2 linked regions of the Homo sapiens genome follow. The protein of the gene in region 1 interacts with the protein of each later gene in a pairwise test. Each region holds a gene or a part of one and is shown in the gene's direction. Other genes may lie near its edges.

Region 1 (7,392 bases):
AATTAATAATTTAATTCAAAATACATTTACATATTAATATTGCAAACAAATCACCCTGCTGATCCCTGCCATACTTTTGACCTGCATAATTTCTAGGTCATTAAAATATTCTTAAAAAAATATAATTGGTCCTTAATTAGGTAATTCAATTCTATAAACTTGTTTCTCTATTTGTTAATTATTGCTATTGATCCATGAAGTGATACTAATAATTGTTTCCTACTTTTTCTTTTTTTTTTCTACAGCTTTACAAGAGGTGAGTAAAACTTTTTTTAGAATTTTTAAAAATACTTTGATTCCCTTGGCTACAGTGATGTCTTCTCTTGGAAGGGAAGAAGTTACATTAATATTGACCATCCTAGATTCCCAAGAAAATTGTGAAGAATTATGATAGTCAAAACCTTTCTGGCTGCCTTAGAAAGTACCCACCCAATTTTCCAAAATAGGCGGGGCTACTGAATAAGACTAGGTTTATAAAATATTCATAAGAAATATAGAGTAAATAATCCAATAGAAGTTTGAGTTTTAGGATCAGCTTCTATGAAGCAGAAGATTTCACTGAGCTAGAGAATCTTTTCACTCCTTTGGAATTATTTGCAAAAGCACTTATTGTTAACACATTCTTAGCTCATGAGTTGAATTTGAGGCATAAGTACAGGTACGTATTGCTATGTATTTTTTGTTCTGTAGGTACATATTTTTATTTGACATGTTGGTAAAATTTTAAATTGTAGTTTGAAATATTAAACTGAGATAATAGTAAATGCATAATGTAATGAATTGTGAAGGTATATTTGTATACTACACCAAAATGGAAGCTGTTTTTAAATATATATATACAATTTTCTTCATAATAATCTTTGATTTATTCTTTTCTAGGAAACTGTAAGAAAGGTAAGAGTACACTACTTCTCCATAAATATCTAAAATTATCAGGGATAACATAATTTAACTAAATTTATAGTAGACTATAGAAGGAAAATACTTTATCAAAATTTTGTTCATATGAATATACATTAGCTAAAGCATAAAATAAAGTAGCTTTGATGTTTAAGATAACAAAGTTTAATTATCTTCTGGAATCATCTGTAATTACATTTATGTGATACAAACTGGTGATTTACATACAAAAGGAAAAAAAAAGACTTGTTTTTATTCTGGAGATGGAAGGCATATTATGTTAATTATAGGGAGTAAAAAAAGTTTATTTTAAAGGGCTTTGACTATATAAATGTGCTGTTAAAAATGTAACAAAATGATCATTTAATCTACAGTTATCATCTTATTCAAAATGCTATGCATAGTATTGACCTAATAGCTGAAGACTATAGCAGCTTCCAATCCTCCAGCTGAAAAAAAATTACGTATAATTACAATTAAAATATATACTTTTATCTATTGCATTGTGTCAATTTTTTATATGCTATCTAATAACATTGTAGTTACATCAGTCTTACCAACTAATTATTATCAAGAATGATTTGTTTGTTCACTGGAAATTACTTCTTAGGCATTTATTATTGTCCTGTTTGTATCTTTCCTGTAGGGCCCAGCCGGAGATAGAGGACCACGTGGAGAAAGGGTGTGTAATTTTTGAACTATAAAGGGCTTCGTCCCGTATTTGAATAACTATATGTTAGAAACTACAGGAACTGGCAATTTATAAGAATATTATGTATCCAGATAATTGTACACCCCTTTAAACAGGTAATGCACTGCAGAAGAAGCGAATGAGCATTATTATATATGATCAATATTTGTTTTAGGTCAAAATTACCGTTAAAAAAGAAAAACTGTTACAGTCATATTCTTTGCATGGTCTACTTTCTTTATTTGTAATTGACCCATCCAACACATGCATAATGGAAATATATCTACCTACCACCACAGTCCTCTTTTTAACACATTTCATTTGCTTTTGAACTAAGATCCCTTAGGTAGCTTGGAAATAATAGTGAATTAGTAGTCAGTAACATGTTTCTCTGCTCAAATTCATGCATGTACAAGTCAGGCTTACATTTTATTTGTGGCATTCTTAAATCTCCCTGCTATGCTTATTTGACATTTATAACTATGTGGTTTTGCATTGTATAACACTTTTGCCAATATATGAATACCTATATCTTATATCTATTAGGAAGAGGAGACTTACATGTATTTCACTCAATTTATTAGAAATAGAATTAAATCAGTTAATTATTTTAACAATACAAGTAGTTAATGATAGTAAATCTGCAGGATTTTCTCTCCTATGATAAAGTGACCTTATTAACTGTCACATCAGTTAATTCATTCACATGTAACATACCAAAACAATTGAATCAGTTTGTCACAGTCAGAGATCGGCAATAAAAATACGATGTAAGTCCTTGTGCACTGTTAAACATATGAAGCACGTGGAACCATACATTTTGGCTATAATTTTTATATTTGAATACTGGAGCTTCAGTATGAATTAATATTCAATGGCCGAGATAGTTCTTTAGGAAAACTACCCTGTGATATCTTAAGAGTTATTAACCCTCTTTCTAAAATAGACTCATAAGTGAATTTCAATCAATGACAAATATAGTATATTAAATTTCCACCCTACTTGCACATAGAAAGGTCTGAACAACTGATCTTACCACATATAATTCTTAGGTTTCTACAGGGCCTGTCTAACCTGACCTTACTCACTTTTTACATAACAGGGTCCACCAGGCCCCCCAGGCAGAGATGGTGAAGATGGTCCCACAGGCCCTCCTGGTCCACCTGGTCCTCCTGGCCCCCCTGGTCTCGGTGGGGTAAGGTGTCTTACGTATTGCTAACTTTTAGCTAACTTCAGTTGAAAGAAGGTTTATTGTGGAATTTATTTTTAGCAGTTAAGGGATAATTCTTCCATTTGAAAATTAGTATATTTTATTTCATTTATTTGGTTTTTTCACTCAAGATTCTGCTTTACCCATTCTCTTTGTGAGCCCTTGTCAATTACAGGACTGGTCTTTGTGTGCACTGAAGTTAGCTGTGGCCATCATTACCATTATTTAATTTGGAGATTTAATATCTTTTATTAGTAAGGCACAAATAAGAGGTGTTGCATTATTAAGGATTTTGATTAGATTGAACTGTGTAAGTGAAATCCCTGATCTTAAGCAATTTTACAAACATCCTACGCTTTTTATTCTCCTTGACTTGAAGTCTGCTGAACCAACATTCAAAGCGGTTTTAGGTTTAATTTGCTTGAAACTAATTTGAGAAAAGTACATTTCCCTTTTTCATTAATATCTTCTTTTAGCTTCATGTCTTTAACAATGGTATGAGTGCCAAATGACCTCACTGCAGGAAGGAAAACATATTTGCTTAATTGGTTAGCACTATGAATCAGAAGCCTGATTCTAATACCCAACTGTATGTCAGTAAAATAAGACCTTTCTCCCCCAAAGATCTTATTATGATTGCTTATCTATGAATTGCATTAAAAAGCAGCTTCTTTAATAGAGCTACCACTATAAGAGAGATCTTTAACAGTAAAGTTATTACTGTGAACTAGTTTTTAGAAGTTTTATCTTCCAAGGGGTATTTTAATTTAATTTTCCTCTAAACTTGAAAACTCTTTATGCCCTTCCTGAAACTCCAGCAAGAAAAAGATCTCTTAGTCATTTTGTGTAGCTCCGGTGGGGAAGGGCAACAGGTGAAAATGTGAAGATGTCCTCTTGAGCTCTGTCTAATTTGTCAGGAGCCCTTAGTAACATTAAAAGTTTAGAAAGCTTCCCTTCCTCAGAGTAGAGGTAAAAGGTGGGAGTGGAGACACCGAGTTAAGGCAGAGGAAGGGCTCAAAAAGTAAAGTAGGGAAGTTCTCCATTTCAAAGAGGTGTCGGCCAAGTTTTTGACGTACAGCTCTCATAACTTTTTAGGAATTTAGTTCAATATAGAATTTTAAACTAATAATTATATCAAAAACATTGCCCTCTTTTAAATAACAACAGAAAAATATTTACAAGTAGAATGAGAAAATGAACTACATGACTAGTAACTAAAAATATTTTATATATATATATAATTTTTTTTTTTTACTTCTCTAGAACTTTGCTGCTCAGTATGATGGAAAAGGAGTTGGACTTGGCCCTGGACCAATGGTATGCTTATCTGTTTATCTTAGCCAAAAAAATTGCTAAATAAATCATTCATTTTATGTCACATTTTACCACGCCATTTATTTAGCTACCTAAGTTAACACTCAATACTTAGATTATATAAAAACAACTCTTTTTGTTTTCAAATTTATGAAAACATAAGTTAAGGAGTTCACTTTTCTTTACAAAAGAAAGATTAATTGATCTTTTATGATTATATGATCTTTTTGATTATATGATCCTCATTAAGATAGATCATATACTTATGTCCAAGAAATAATCTTTGGACATAGTAACCATAACTTGGGCAAATCAATTTAATTTAAAACAGTAATCACTCTGATTAATTTTTTAATATTCTTTAACATTGCTTAGAATTTTAAGCAACACTTAGAGGCATAGAACTATTTATTAAGTTCTCTGAACTTGTTGGAAAGGATCAACAAGTTCTATCTAGTCCAGCTAACTCATTTTAAAATGGGAGAGTTTAAGCCCTTTTCTCAAAGTCATCCAGGTAACTAATGACATAACTAGAACTAGATGCCAGGCAAGATGTCTAATATTTGCTTACATCATGGTTTATGTACCTAGTCCTTGAATAAACCACTCATTTAGTCAACAGATATTAATCAGATGCCTTCAATGGGCCCTAAACTGTATTAGGAACTGGGGAAATTACAAGGAATATGACAGATTCTGATCCTTCCTCAAGGAGTTAACAATATAGGAAATGTTTCTTTTTCTGAATTTTGACCAAAAAAATCCTTTTTTAGTCTATTGATTGTAAATCTATATAGAAGAGAGTATGAGTAAAAATCTAGCATTTATGTCACTCAGTACAAATATTCAGCACCATACCCTATCAGTGGAGCACCGCTTAGAAACATTCCCTATATGATGATGATGATGATGATGACTATTAACAAATGAAGCTTCTAACAAGCATTAGAGAGAAGTTTGAAGGGAAAAATGCTAATACGAGCATGCAAAATGTATACTAGCATATATGAAATAGAGGGGAAAACTGCCAGAAGTCAAAGTGTTAGGTTGATTAAGCACTACAGAATTTAATGTATACACACACACGCAATTTAGTGATTTTAATTAATTGTTTCAAAACAAAGGTATTTATCTGCCCAAAGTCAACAAGGTCTTTAAAATGTAAATTTTACCTGGGCAGTGCACTTAGTGCTCTATCTTCAAAAGAAGATGTTCTGCTGGAGCTAATGGCCCACAGTAAGCTAATATACTCTAAGGGTGAGATAATATTTTCTGTAAATTAAAACTCCCACTTGAGAAATAATGTACCTTTAATTGACGACTTCTAATTCCCTAATTTTTTCTGGTAGTTTAAAATGTTCATATCTGAAATGAAAAAGTAGAGTGTTTCTTTTGGCTTTGTTTATATTGGATTTTTGAAATTAGCTGTTTCAGCTAATGCTGGACATTAGTCAGTTTTAAAGCAGTACCTACATCTCAAGAAGAAGCAAGGGGGCGGAAAGTAAAGAGCTACTAAATGTCATTTTTAAAAAGCCCACTAAGCTGGGAAAATTAATATGGATTTCAGATACCCCTGTTTTCGGAACATCTGTCTTGGCATAAAGCAGAGTATTTTACTTTGAAATATCAGTGAAATATAATTTAAGCTTGCACATCCACACACATGCACAGACATATGTAATCAACAGATATCTGTTTCACAAATAGGGAAGATAGGCAGCAATAAAGTATTAAAATAATTTCCATGTTGGAAAATCAATAACTATAAAACCCCACAGGGTTCTTCTCTGAATTAATGAGTAATCACAGCCTCCATGAAATACACTACATTTTATGTAAATGAAATTGTTGCAAATACATGAAAAAATAAATATAATTAGAAATTCATGATGTCAAAGAAAATTATTTTTTAATGTATGCCTAAAAAGCTATTGTGATGGAAAAGTGACAGTTTCTTTTAATGTCAGAGCAATTTCTAAAACCAAATGAATAATTCTTATAATTAAAATGACATACATTTTAGATAAAATCCATGTTATTTCACTCTAGGCATTAATACAGTAAGGTAGGTTTGACTGCAGAGTCCCCACAGCTGATGTCATGAACAAATTACTTGAGACTGGTACATGAAATATTTTCAGCATTATGAGGAACAGACCCTACGGATGAGCTTACACAGGCACTGATTACTGCAAAGAGGAGTCAAGAAAGTGTATTTAGCTTACAAACTATTAACAGCCTGTTTTACCCTACTTTTGTGCTATGGAAACAACAAAGGGGAAAACAATCTTCCATCATTTGGGCCATATTTTCAACAATAATATCATATAATAGACTCTTCCAGAAGGCTGTTTCAATAATGTTTTATTTTTCCTTCACCCCTCATTACATCCACTTTTGTTTGACATTTTCATCAGTCACCAATAACCCTTAGAGGAGCGATAAGGTTATAACAAACTTCTCTCTAATCATTAAGAAGGACTTTTGATTCTTTTCAATTTATGTCCTTTGTGGCAATAAAAATACCAATTTCTTAGCTAAATATGACATAGGAAGATGACATATGATCAAAGATATCCAAATGGACATGCTTCATCTGCTGTATAGAAGACAATTGTATATTCTGCACTTCTGCAAAGACTGATTCACTTCATTGCATCAGAACAATCTCAATATGCCCAATTGTGCACAACTTTAAGGAACCTATCTGCCCCGTCTAATTCTCATTGATTTCTGTTGATAAGGATTGGGAGAAAAGGAAAAGCAAAGGGAGAGAACTAGTGCAGGAAGTTTGAGTCCTTAAATTCTTCCTTGGGAGGAATAAAAACTATGGAATCAAACCACAACAATGGCACTGCTAAGTTGGTCATATCTGACCCCAGCCAACACCATGACAACTTATCAGTGCTAACTGTTGATATATCTGCTTTCTTTACAGGGCTTAATGGGACCTAGAGGCCCACCTGGTGCAGCTGGAGCCCCAGTAAGTACTGAAAGCTTGTAATGCCTCTTATGTAAAAAGACAGAGAATTAAGAAATAAAGGCTTGGAGTATGACATTCTTTTTTTCTTTTAGGGCCCTCAAGGTTTCCAAGGACCTGCTGGTGAGCCTGGTGAACCTGGTCAAACTGTGAGTACATTTTTCCACCTTTGTGATAAGTTTTTTTCCAGGAAGTTTATGAATATAACCTTAGTGAAATGATGGGTCTCCCATTTTCTTAGGGTCCTGCAGGTGCTCGTGGTCCAGCTGGCCCTCCTGGCAAGGCTGGTGAAGATGT
Region 2 (7,900 bases), on another chromosome or scaffold:
TGAACCCTTTTTTTTTTTTTTTTTTTTTTTTTTGAGACGGAGTCTGGCTCTGTCACCCAGGCTGGAGTGCAGTGGCGCAATCTCGGCTCACTGCAAGCTTCGCCTCCCGGTGAACCCTTATTTTTATTGTTAATAGAACTAATTACTTTGAACTCTGATCCCCTGTACTTCAAAGACCCATTCTCCTATCATATCACCTCTTCTCATTTTCCCATTTTGTTTCAGTAACTAACATTCTTTACTTCATCACACGTGAACATGCATTAAGGACACCAGAATGAAATACTTTTCTATTCCTTAGAGTTAAACTCCACTTTTCCATTCCTTAGGTGGCCCAAAGGAATGGGTAACCAAGCCAGATACATTTAAAAGTTATTATTTCTGGAATTCTTCTACTCAGTTTGTTTATACTTTTTTTTTTTCAGTTTGGTCTTGACACACAGACAAGTGTGTACCCAACTGTCTACTTTTTATATTTGGGTGAATACCTGGAAGTGGTATGTGGCAGAAGGCTAGGATAAGTAGTAGAAGGGAACACAAGCACACTGTTAACTTTAAGGCTAACTTACTCCTCTCCTCCATTTCACTCCAAGTAAAAAGATTTCTAGTTCTGTATTTCACTCTGTTACATTTCTTAATTACTTTTTAAGTATCCTCAATGTCCTAATTCAACACTCAGAGTGTATTCTCCTTTGTGTTATATGGTATTCTGTTTTCTCAATCATTTTCCCCTTACACATCTCCAACTTTCCACTTTTTAAATTTTATTCTCTGTGCTGTTTTGTTTTCAAACCACATGGAACCAAAGCACATACAACCATTACTCTTTACCAAAAAACAAGCTTTGTATGAGCTTCTTGAGCCTCAAACAAAAGAATTTACACTTGAACCTGATTGCTTTGAATGTGGCATTACTGTTCTGGCTTCTGCAATTCAGAGGCCCTGCTTTATGGTTTCGGCTTTCTGTTTTCCATTTATGTGAAATGTCCTACAAAAATAAATGTATTTAACAAATACCAGGAACATAGCATTACAACAACTTTCATTTCTTGGCCAATGGGCCAGACATTGCCATTTAAAGATTTGATATTGATGGGCTAGAAACTCAAAAAAAGAATTAGCAACATTCCTTCCCTTCTCTTATGGCACATACTGCAGAATTGTTCACGAGAAGAAAATCTCATGGTCAAAAGTGAAATCAGCTGTGGATCTTATCAAAGCAAAAAAAGCTGTTTGTATCTTGATGTAGCCGTGGCTTATTATTATTATTGTCATCATCATTATCATCTCAGATTTGAGTGGAAAGGAACTATGGTTTCTCCAATTTTGTGAATAATAGTTTTGTTATTGAACAGGGAACACAATGTGTGGCTAGATTATCTCCCGCAGGGCTTGCAAACACTGTATTGTCCCCAAATGTGGTAGCCACATGTTTGTTTTTCAGCTGACAGAGTCCTAAGCCAGAGAGATTTTAGAGGAAATGAAGGAGAGTGAAAATCAACTAAGCTTTTCATTAGCATGTGTGACAAAGGGTAGTGTGTTTTTCTCTTTTGGTAGTGTGTACATGTTTTAAGAAAATAAATATTGCACATCATTACTGCTCTAGTCAGTTATTTATACTCTGATAAGAATTTTAAAGTCTGTTGGAGCAAATCTGGAAAAAAGGATCAACTTCATTCAGCTCTAAACTTTTAGTGCTCACGTGTGCAAGTCACCATTATGGTATACTACACTTCGGAACATATATATGTGTTCAAGAAATGTTTGTAAAACAAATAAATATGTATTGACTTTCACTATTGGAAAATATGTAGAATAAGAAAATTGCAGTCTGCAGATTCTAACTCACACAAAATGCATCCAATGTTTTAAACTCCAACTAAAAAAATTTGATTAAATATTAATAATCATAATGAACACATTATTATCAATGAATCGAAAGTAATTGGAATAACTTGAATATTCACAAAAATCAGAGATTTTAAAACTAGGAAAAATACTTTAGAAAGAATTTGGTTAATCCTTGAATCCTAAATATAACAAAAGCCAGAGATAGTAAACAAACTGTCCAAAGAGACACAGCTTTTTTTTTTTTTATTGGAGCACTAGGATTGGAAACAGGGCATTTTATCTGGGATCCAGTGTAAACTTTCTACCCTCCCATTAGGGGTGCTGCTTTGGTCTGCCATTCTGACACTATGTCTGGCATAGCAGAGGTCTTCCCTCAGGAACCTGTGGTCAAGTAATAGCAGTTTCAGACTTCTCTAGTCTAGGGAATAAGCTGTTCATGGGCACATGCAGAGCCTTTTTCAGATGAGGGATAATTACATTCTTTCGTTTCCTGCTTCTCCTGTAATTTGGCCTGTCCATTGAAATTATAATCTATACACCTGTTTCTTCTTTTTCACTCCATCTTTCTTAGTGGGTTTGGAGGAGTTGAGTAGTTTAATTTTAAGCACTGCAGCAAGTCTGTAAAATGACAGCTAGGGATGTCTCTGACCCTTATAGGGAGAGTGAGATGTCACTGTTGACTTGCCATCAGTGGGAATTGCATTTGAATGTTCATCTTCAAGTGCAAATTATCATGTAAGTAATAGATTTGCCAACACATTGGCGAGCTTCCATGTGATATTTCCCTGTGACCAAGGATGCTGTGCAGTCATGGGCAGGGGAAATCTAACTTGACTCAAACTGAACCAAACCCATCACCCTGAACTGAGAATAATGTGAACTGATTAGGTGACAGAAGCAGCCACACCCTGCTCAGTGTCAGTCAGCCTTCTTAGGTGGAAAACAACAGAAATTGACTCTGACCATGTTCAGTCACAAAGGAATGTATGGGGGGGATGGGGGGGTGGGTCGGGGAGTAAGAAAGAAAGAAGGAAATGCTGAAGAACCAGGTCTTAGAATGTACTCACCTAAAGTAGCTTGGGTGACGGGGCAGGGGACGGATCCATGTAGCAAGACATAATGGGCACTTTTTCATTTGTTTGTTTGTTTTTTAGATGGAGTCTCACTCTGTTGCCCAAGTTGGAGTGCAGTGGTGGATCTCCGCTCACTGTAACCTCTGCCTCCTGGGCTTAAGGAATTCTCCGGGCTCAAGCAATTCTCCAGCCTCAGCCTCCAGAGTAGTTTGGGATTACAGACATGTGCCACCATGCCCAGCTAATTTTTTGTTTGTTTGTTTGTTTGTTTGTATTTTTAGTAGAGATGGGGTTTTGCCATGTTGGCCAGGCTGGTCTCGAACTCCTGACCTCGAATGATAATGATCCGCCCGCCTTGGCCTCCCAAAGTGCTAGGATTACAGGTGTGAGCCACTGCGCCAGGCCTGGGCACTTTCTTTAGTAGTTTGAGGAGCAACATTTTTGACAGTGTCCTTCTGCTCAAGATTCAGATCCCAGATAAAATTAAACCATCTAGAGAGATGGCTTGATTGGCCAAACCTGGATCTCATGACCACTTCTTGAAGTGGGTAAGTCTCATAAATGCTCAGTCCTTCCACTATGCAACTGAGTGGGGTGGGTGGGAAGCCCCTCAAAGGAAAATCCGGTTGTTCTTACTAGAAAGAAAAGGAAAATGGATGTGAGGCAGTCAAAATCAGCAGAGGTCCACCACACCACCAAAATGTGGTGATTAAATATGGAGAGACAGAGACTAACAGAGGTATGTGAATATTGAAGTATGTCTGGACAATAGCCCAATGATGAGACCAATAAAATGGTTACCAAAATCTGGTTTTGAGTAGTAGTGTTAAATCAGACCATTTAGTAACCATTTTTTGTTGCAAAGTTTCTAGCACTGCCCAAACCCTGAGTGGTATATGAATAACTCGTCCATTATGTATCTCTTTCCAGTCAGCATAATTTATCCCCCACCTATATTCTTTTCTGACCACTCCTACTTCCTTCTCTTTACCAAAATCTAAACTCTAAGGCTGTTTCTTCAGCAACTTCTTTGTTTAGATTGGAAGATAAATTAAACAGCATGCGATGTTTTACTGACTTTCAGTATTTAACAGAGGTGATTTAATTTTTTTTTAAATCCAAAGTCAAACTTCTTTATAAGATGAAGGAGAAAAATGTCTTATAAAATGCATATGTGAAGATGCCTTCTGAGTGCTTTCTCATGCAGACTTGTTCTAGTCTTTAATGAATCTTCCTTGTAGACACTGTGGAGATGAAAGATGGTTCTCCACTTCTACTCAAAGTACAAATCAGGCCGGCATTTTGAAAAAGAGACAGGTTTATTCATAGCTGCAGCGTTAGCTGGCTTTGTTCCCTGTACAATTTCACTTTTGGTTATTAAAATATTCACTGTAGGAAATAAATTTGTAACCCATTTCTCATATTACCTACACACAGAAAAACAAAATTTGATATCCTGGGGTTTATTTGCTGAGGGCGCTTCCCATAAAAGCGAGAGAGTGTGCGTTGGGAAATGTGTCTGGTTAACTCTTTTATGGATAAACTTTAGTCACAATCCTCCCCCGCCCCCCTCTCACCCCCAGCACCCTCCCAACCTCCCGACTTCCCGCCTCTCAAGGGCTGGTGACCTAATAGCATTTTTCTTCGTGCATATTTTGGCGTCGCCCCATGGCCTGGCTGCCTTCGCCTGTCTGAGTTTTTTGAAATTCCTGCATGTTCGCCCCAGATTAAGCCAGTGTGTCTCAGGATGTGTGTTCCGTTTTGTTCTTTCCCCTTAACGCTCCCTGTGCAACGTGTCTGGGGGGAGGAGGGCAGGGACGGGAGAGAGGGAGGGGCAGAGGCGAGGAGCTGTCCGCCTTGCACGTTTCCAATCGCATTACGTGAACAAATAGCTGAGGGGCGGCCGGGCCAGAACGGCTTGTGTAACTTTGCAAACGTGCCAGAAAGTTTAAAATCTCTCCTCCTTCCTTCACTCCAGACACTGCCCGCTCTCCGGGACTGCCGCGCCGCTCCCCGTTGCCTTCCAGGACTGAGAAAGGGGAAAGGGAAGGGTGCCACGTCCGAGCAGCCGCCTTGACTGGGGAAGGGTCTGAATCCCACCCTTGGCATTGCTTGGTGGAGACTGAGATACCCGTGCTCCGCTCGCCTCCTTGGTTGAAGATTTCTCCTTCCCTCACGTGATTTGAGCCCCGTTTTTATTTTCTGTGAGCCACGTCCTCCTCGAGCGGGGTCAATCTGGCAAAAGGAGTGATGCGCTTCGCCTGGACCGTGCTCCTGCTCGGGCCTTTGCAGCTCTGCGCGCTAGTGCACTGCGCCCCTCCCGCCGCCGGCCAACAGCAGCCCCCGCGCGAGCCGCCGGCGGCTCCGGGCGCCTGGCGCCAGCAGATCCAATGGGAGAACAACGGGCAGGTGTTCAGCTTGCTGAGCCTGGGCTCACAGTACCAGCCTCAGCGCCGCCGGGACCCGGGCGCCGCCGTCCCTGGTGCAGCCAACGCCTCCGCCCAGCAGCCCCGCACTCCGATCCTGCTGATCCGCGACAACCGCACCGCCGCGGCGCGAACGCGGACGGCCGGCTCATCTGGAGTCACCGCTGGCCGCCCCAGGCCCACCGCCCGTCACTGGTTCCAAGCTGGCTACTCGACATCTAGAGCCCGCGAAGCTGGCGCCTCGCGCGCGGAGAACCAGACAGCGCCGGGAGAAGTTCCTGCGCTCAGTAACCTGCGGCCGCCCAGCCGCGTGGACGGCATGGTGGGCGACGACCCTTACAACCCCTACAAGTACTCTGACGACAACCCTTATTACAACTACTACGATACTTATGAAAGGCCCAGACCTGGGGGCAGGTACCGGCCCGGATACGGCACTGGCTACTTCCAGTACGGTAAGTACCCCCAAGTCCGCTGGAAGCACCCGTGCACCTGGTCCCCAGCTATGTGGCTTCTCGACGTGGCTGCCTGGGCGCGGCGGGCCCCGGTCCTCGCAGATCCGATCCCTCCCCCACGCGCCTGCAGTGGCAGCCCTGGAATCCAGTGCAAACCGCGCGTCTGGCCCCTCCTGCTTCCTTTTCACATTGCTTTGCAGTCCCGGGCGTCCCCAGTTCTCTTGCTGTCCTCCGCTCCACTCTGCAGTCCCGGTGGGCGAAGGGTGAGGAGTAAGGGACCTAGAGGGGTAGGGAGTTGGAGCGGGGGGCGCCGGGTTGTTTCACTGCTGCGCCCGTCGCCTGCTGACGTTTAGGTCTCCCAGACCTGGTGGCCGACCCCTACTACATCCAGGCGTCCACGTACGTGCAGAAGATGTCCATGTACAACCTGAGATGCGCGGCGGAGGAAAACTGTCTGGCCAGGTACGGGCTGATATGTCTGAGGCCCCGCTCCCCGGTCTACCTTCAGGGGGCGCTCTGGTGCCTGGTTCTGACTGCTACTGCTTCGCGCAGACAAGTGTTAGGAAGTGGGACAAGAGCTGGGAAGTGGGACGTGACCTCCTGGGCATGCTGACCTGGACGGAGAGTTAATATTTTTGAAGATTTCTGTGGGTTCTGTCTCAAAGTGCAGCAGGAATCACAGAGGTGGAGGAAACCCTTATCCTGGAGACTGAAAGTCTCATGCTCTTTTTCCAAGATACTTAAACTTGGGAGTCAATTGTTCCAATCACTTTTCATAAAACAACTATACAGTAATTCAAAAAATTTATTGTAATGGAAGGGTGTGTTAATACCCCCTTAAAAGATTCGGGGCAAATTTGCCATCGTAGCCTCATTGGTAAAGACTAAGTTTTCCTCTTTTGTTTGAGACCACGATGAACTTGGTTGTTTTGGTATTACTTCAGCCAGAATAAGACCGTGAGCAAGAGCTTTGTTTTTCCACTATTCTAAAATAAAATAGTAACTCTGGGATTGGGGTTCTCTGGGTTTACTGCTGGGAAACAGCAGAGGGAGCAAAAGATGTTTTAATAAAAATTTAAAGTGTAAAATAAGGTCATCAATACCACCTGAACATATAGACACACTAAATATATTAGTAGGAACACAGTGATGTTTATTTGTACATTTCTTCCACTTTGACCCTTTATAATTGTCAGGCTAAAGGAAGTGAAGAAATCCAAGCTCATTTTCATTCCTGAGTCTTGCATCACTCACACCATTGAACTCCCTATGATGTTTTTACAGTACTGCCATTGTTTTGGGATAGTGAAGTTACAAAATTATTAATTTAAATCTGGGTATGCTCTTTTAGAGTTATTTCCTCAGTTTGCAGCTCATTAACTTTTTTAAAAGTTTTGTTAAGTTTGAAGTTTGTAATAAACATCTATGAATTATTTTTTTTATTGGGGGATTATTTCCACTTCAGTTTCACTCATTCATATGATCAAACTTGAATTGATTCTAAAGTTTACTTCTGACATTTAGATTTTTAATGCTTATTATGTTTTTACTGTTAAGATCTGTGGATTTCCATAGGTGTTATTCATTCACTTATTCACCAAATATTCATTGAGCTCTGACTACTCCAAGACGGTTCTAGGAGCTTTGGATTCAGCAATGAACAAAAAGAAACAAAATGCCTTAGACTCTTGGAACTGATAGTCTAGTTGGGAAAGGAGGATTGTCACTACTATATAATGGATGTTTTATTTGTAGTTTTGTCTTTAGTTAATATTCCATGAATATAATAATTTTTCTTTTTTCAAAATCACAGTACAGCATACAGGGCAGATGTCAGAGATTATGATCACAGGGTGCTGCTCAGATTTCCCCAAAGAGTGAAAAACCAAGGGACATCAGATTTCTTACCCAGCCGACCAAGATATTCCTGGGAATGGCACAGTTGTCATCAGTAAGTAAATGGGCCTCCTGGGTACTTTTGGGTTGCTTTTCATTTCTCAGGTGATTTTTGATATCACAAATGCAAGTCTTATTTCTTACCTGAAGGGAGAAAATTGCTATTACTTATATTTAGAATTTTTCTCTATGTAATTTC

The links. Proteins that work in one complex are often made in the same cells at the same time.
Region 2: the proteins of COL1A2 (region 1) and LOX interact in a two-hybrid assay, tested with the Homo sapiens proteins (one study listed by IntAct).

The regions. Positions count from the first base shown.
Region 1 is NC_000007.14:94,397,503-94,404,894, forward strand, and holds part of COL1A2 (collagen alpha-2(I) chain precursor), read left to right. Parts: intron 1-245; coding exon 246-256; intron 257-879; coding exon 880-894; intron 895-1,546; coding exon 1,547-1,582; intron 1,583-2,693; coding exon 2,694-2,786; intron 2,787-4,064; coding exon 4,065-4,118; intron 4,119-7,053; coding exon 7,054-7,098; intron 7,099-7,190; coding exon 7,191-7,244; intron 7,245-7,336; coding exon 7,337-7,390; intron 7,391-7,392. UniProt on the Homo sapiens protein: Type I collagen is a member of group I collagen (fibrillar forming collagen).
Region 2 is NC_000005.10:122,075,260-122,083,159, reverse strand, and holds the start of LOX (protein-lysine 6-oxidase isoform 1 preproprotein), read left to right. Parts: upstream 1-4,900; 5' UTR 4,901-5,174; coding exon 5,175-5,805; exon of another isoform or gene 5,806-6,158; coding exon 6,159-6,267; exon of another isoform or gene 6,268-7,618; coding exon 7,619-7,756; exon of another isoform or gene 7,757-7,834; coding exon of another isoform or gene 7,835-7,845; intron 7,846-7,900. UniProt on the Homo sapiens protein: Responsible for the post-translational oxidative deamination of peptidyl lysine residues in precursors to fibrous collagen and elastin. Regulator of Ras expression. May play a role in tumor suppression. Plays a role in the aortic wall architecture.